Regions from separate parts of the Homo sapiens genome. Here region 1 is linked to region 2. Evidence: fine-mapped expression QTL. Tissue or cell type: whole blood. Region 2 holds a variant in brackets; the other region holds the start of a gene. All regions are shown on one strand. Distances are between the middles of the regions.

What was found. PIP is the estimated chance that this variant, and not a neighbour inherited with it, causes the effect.
Region 1: KDM4B starts here. The variant in region 2 is fine-mapped to the expression of KDM4B in whole blood (TOPMed, PIP above 0.99).

What each region holds. Positions count from the first base shown.
Region 1 is chr19:4,967,984-4,970,666 of GRCh38, reverse strand. It overlaps KDM4B (lysine demethylase 4B), which reads right to left and starts at 1,554. Exons shown (of 23, transcript NM_015015.3): 1 at 1,437-1,554. RefSeq lists an enhancer at 65-114 and silencers at 1,381-1,680, 1,991-2,090.
Region 2 is chr19:5,163,282-5,165,964 of GRCh38, reverse strand. No RefSeq gene overlaps it. Among named protein-coding and RNA genes, the nearest start is that of PTPRS-AS1, 13 kb to the left of the region's middle. RefSeq lists a silencer at 186-405. The variant C/T (reference allele first, on the strand shown) is at 1,542.

The sequences.
Region 1 (2,683 bases), 200 kb after region 2:
AGAATTAGGGGAGTCATTAGCTCCCATAACGGCAGTGATAAAAGCCCATAGGAGTCGTCTAATGAGCCTGCTTTAGGACTGGTGCTGTTTTTAGGAGCATTCTCCAGCCCGGGGACATTCTGATAAATGGCCATTGAGGCAGAGGACTGGGGCAGGGCACCGATCCCTTGAATTCAGTCCAGTATCCAGAGATCCCAAGACAGTGCAGGCACCCGGTGGGACCCAAAGGAACTTGCTGAATACACGCCCCAGCCAGAAACACATGGAAAAAGACGCTCTTCACATATGACAGGATCACTAGGCTCCACGGAGCTGAACCACCTTCTCACTAGTTTCACAACTCGGGGAACACTTCCTCACAGGGTGCTGGTAAATTATTAAAACAGAAGCATCCTCCCCCAAGCAAACAGATGGGATGCACCCAAAAGCAGTCCATGCCTCCACTGCCCCCAGGGGCGGAAAACATGCCCCTTAAAACCTTCCACCGTGCCCAGGTGGACAGAGTCCCCCGTCCTGCCTGATTGTCATGGCCACCACTGAGCGCAGACCTGGGCCCTGGCAGACCCCAGGTCAAGCAGATTTCAGAGCGAGTCCGTCCCCAGCTCCCAGGGGGATGTCCACGGGGGACACAGAAAAGGGGTCTCGGCGGAAGCAACTCCTCAATTCATTTCTCTAGAGCAGGGGCTTCGTTCGAGATGGCGATCAGGCTGGAAGGGGGAGGGACGGAGAGACTCGTGGAGGCTGCCGTTGCATAGCAAGATGATTTTTTTCTAAAATCCAGATTGCATATGCTTATGGCGGGGTGGGGGTTTCGGGTACGTACAGGGGGGCAAGTTTGGAAGCTACCAAGGCATAGCAGGTTGACCGGAGGTGGGGGCAGTGCAGGAGCAATGATAGGCATTTAGGGGGCATCCCTGGGTGTCCAGCTGGGGGGCTTCCCCTTAGCCCCCCTGGCGCCCAAAGGGCCAGAAACGCAGGCGGGGGTTACCCAGGGGCTGGGGTCTTTTTCCTTTTTCTTGCTTTCTTTCAAAAATAATAATAATAATAGGCCGAGGCTTGTCCCGGGTGATAAAAGGGCCCGGCCGGGGCCACCCACGCTGTCATCTTTTGTGCGGGGCGCCGGGGCCGTCTGTGCCCAGCCCCCGCGCGCCCCCGGCCCGGGAAGGGGCCCCCGCTCCCGCCCCTGGGCGCGCCCCGCCATTGTCCGGCCCCGCCGCCCCCGCCCGAAAACCAGCGGGCGCCCCCGGGCCGGGCGGTTAACGCCCCAACCGCCCCGCCGGCCCGGACAAAGCGCGAGGCCCGGCCCGAGCAGGCCGCGCCCGAGGCCTGGGCCTCGAGTCCCGGGCGCGCCCGCAGCCCCGAGCCGCGACGCGGGGGCGGCCATGGCGGCGGGGTCCGCGCTCGGACACGGCCGGGCGGCCTCCCCGTGGGCTCACCTGAGGCGGCGTGCGCGGCCCGGTCCGGGAGCAGCGGCGCGCTCTCCCCCGCCCTCGGCGTCGCACCCCCAGGCCCCGCTCGGGCCGGGCCCCGCTCGGTTGCTGGCGACCGAGCCCTCCGCAAGCGCTCGCGGGGGGGCTTATAAGGCCGCGCGCCAGCTCCGCCCCGACTGCCATTGGCTGCCGGATCCACGCCCGAGCGCCCATTGGCCGGAGCTGACAGCTCCGCCCCTCCCCTCCGCCGGGCCCATCAACACCGCACGGCCCGCCCACCGCGCGCCGCGATTGGGCGGGGACAAACGCCGGCCTCGCCTCTTCATTGGCAGACCGGCGGGGACACGCCGGCGCCCACCCACGTGCCCGCTGACCGGCTCTGTTCTCATTGGAGGGGGCGCACGCCAGCCAAGGCTGCCGCGACCAACCCGACGGCAGCTGGGCCTTGGATTGACAAGGGAGCCTCAGGGCCCGCCCGACGACCGCACAGAGAGGAGCCAGTATTGGCTTGAGGGGCCAGCCCGAGGCGCGGACAGGCTGGGGCAGGTGCCAATCACTGCCCGCAAGCTCCGGGCCCCGCCCTGGTTATCAGGCGGCGGCTGAGTACGTGAGACCCAGCACAGCATCAGCACCGGCCGGGAACGTGCAGGCTGGAGGTTCGAAACCCGTGGCCGGAATGTGGGCTTAGCGTTCCCCAATTTGCAAAGTGCCAAGCAAGGAGACATAGCGATCCGTTTTGCAAAGGAGGAGAACCGAGAACATAGGGTAAAGCAGCAAGAGCCTCCACCCCGCCACCGTAGGTCTATTCCCATCACAATCAACAAACCTTTGCCAAGGGGCAAGGCCTTCGGAATAGTTAGGGTCCCTCTCCCCGAGTTCCCTAAAATGTATGGGAGAGAATGAGCTTTGGTGCTTTCTGACCTGGATTCAAAGCTAAGCCGGGCCCCATGCCTCACTGTGGTTGACCTCCAGCAAAGTAACCTCGCTGAGTCTGTTTCCAACTGTGCAATGGATATGATGGTAGTGGCCACACCCCGTCTACCCGCCTCTTGAGAATGTTGCAAGGATTAAGTGGGATGAGGCACGGAGAAAGATTTGACCCTGTGACTTCACAAAATGAGCATTCATTGTGTACTGGACCACGCAGGGGTGTGAGGCATGCCCCCATTTGGAGTGGCAGGAGTGTAAATTGGGCAATTTGACATTTTCTAATAACATTCTAAGTGCATCCACCACCCGATAACCCAGCCAGC
Region 2 (2,683 bases):
CAGGTACTTTCTTAACACCTGGTAATGTTGATGCTGGCATCTGTCTCCTCTAAAGGGCATGGGCTTTGTGGGGCAAGAACTTGCTGTATCCTCAGTGTCTGGCTCCCCAGTGTGTGTGTGGGCTTGGGAAAAACTAGCACAGTGCAAGGGCTCAGTAGCAGCTGGCAGAATTGATAAGACTGAGAGGTGAGGCCAACTGGACTTCCTGGGTCGAGCGGGGACTTGGAGAACTTTTCTGTCTTACAAGAGGTTTGTAAAATGCACCAATCAGTGCTCTGTAAAATGGACCAATCAGCACTCTGTAAAATGGACCAATCAGCAGGACATGGGCAGGGACAAATAAGGGAATAAAAGCTGGCCGCCCCAGCCAGCAGCAGCAACCCGCTCGGGTCCCCTTCCACGCTGTGGAAGCTTTGTTCTTTTGGTCTTCATAATAAATCTTGCTGCTGCTCACTCTTTGGGTCCGTGCCACCTTTAAGAGCTGTAACACTCACCACGAAGGTCCGCGGCTTCATTCTTGAAGTCAGCGAGACCACGAACCCACTGGAAGGAACCAACTCTGGACACATCTTGGGGGCTTGTCTGGGATATCGCCTTTTGGTGAGTACCATCGGACCCATTTTGCTTGCTATTCTGTCCTATTTTTCCTTAGAATTCAGGGGCTAAACACCGGGCACTTGTCGGCCAGTTAAAAGCAACTAGCGTGGCCACCAGACTAAAGACACTGGTGTCGGGCTTTCTGGGAAAGGGCTCTCTAACAATCCCCAACTCTTTGGAGTTGGGAGCGTTGGTTTGCCTGGAACCAGCTTCCACTTTTCCTGTACTTCCGGACTGAGCCAAGTGTCAACAGAGAGGAAAGCCATTTAGCTCCAGGGCCCTGACAAAAAGTTGGTTGACCCTGCAGCCATGAGCGGAACTCTCAAAGTCACGTCACCCAAGCGAGACTTGCCCATTTATCCTATCTATCCTGACCCTTGCCTCCTGGGTCCTAATGCCTGTCAGACATACTTCCTCCCACCTCTCCTCTCCGAGGCTAGTCCTGTTTCTAAAAACCACTCCCTGTCTCTGGTGCTTTTCTAGTTTCTCCTATAAGAACGACTTCTAGTATACATTTCAGGACTCTGTTCCTTTCTTTAGGCATCTGGGCTCACCAATCAGAAAGACAATCTTTGCCCAAAGCCCTGTCAGTGGGGAGACTATCTGGAATTTTAGGATCCCTCCTCAGACTAGCAGGCCTAACAAAGGCTATTCCCAAAGCTAGGATATGGGGAGCCTCAGAAATGATATCCTTCCTATTCACATGATGAGAAGTGAGGACAAAAGGCATCACTCTAGAGATCCCTTCCCTCCCTCAGGGTATGGCCCTTCACTCCATTTTGAGACATAACATCTTTATAGAACAAGGGTAAGGTCCCAATACTAACAGGAGAAAATGCTTAGGACTCTAACAGGTCTTCGAGAATGTGTTGGTAAGGGCCACTAAATCTGTTTTTTCTCAGTCTTCTTTGTGGTCTAAGAGGAAAGGCAAGGATGCATGTTTC[C/T]GAGAATGCATCAGTAAGGGCCACTAAATCTGACCTTCCTCAGTCCTCTTTGTGGTCTAGGAGGAAAACTAGTGTTTCTGCTGCTGCTTCGGTGAGCGCAACTATTACGATCAGCAGGGTCCAGGGACTGTTGCAGGTTCTTGGGTGGGGGAGGGGGGAAAACAAACCAAAACTGCGAGCAGTTTTTCTTTCACATGGGAAACACTCAGGCATCAACAGGCTCAACCTTGAAATGCATCCTAAGCCACTGGGACCAATTTGACCCAGAAACCCTGAAAAAGAGGTGGCTCATTTTTTTTTTCTGCACTATGGCCTTGCCCCAATATTCTCTCTCTGATGGGGAAAAATGGCCACCTGAAGGAAGTATAAATTACAATACTATCATGCAGCTTGACTTTTTCTGTAAGAGGGAAGGCAAATGGAGTGAAATACCTTATGTCCAAGCTTTCTTTTCATTGAAGGAGAATCCACAACTATGCAAAGCTTGCAATTTACATCCCACAGGAGGAGCTCTCAGCTTACCTCTATATCCTAGCCTTCCTACAGCTCCCATTCCTATTAAGGATAAGCCTCGTCTAATCTCCCCCACCCAGAAGGAAACAAGCAAAGAAATCTCCAAGGGACCACAAAACCCCCTGGGCTATCATTTATGTCCCCTTCAAGCTATAGGGGTAGGGATTTTGGCCCAATCTGGGTACATGTCCCTTCTCCCTCTCGATTTAAAGCAGATCAAGGTAGACCTGGGGAAGTTTTCAGATGATCCTGATAGGTATACAGATGTCCTATAGGGTCTAGGGCAAACCTTTGACCTCACTTGGAGAGATGTCATGCTATTGTTAGATCAAACCCTGGTCTTTAATGAAAAGAATGGAGCTTTAGCTGCAGCCCAAGAGTTTGGAGATACCTTTTATCTTAATCAAGTAAATGATAGGATGACAGCTGAAGAAAGGGACAAATTCCCTACTGGTCAGCAAGCCATCCCCAGTATGGATCCCCACTGGGACCTCGACTCAGATCATGGGGACTGGAGTCGCAAACATCTGTTGACCTGTGTTCTAGAAGGACTAAGGAGAATTAGGAAAAACCCCATGAATTATTCAATGATGTCCACCACAACTCAGGGAAAGGAAGAAAATCCTACC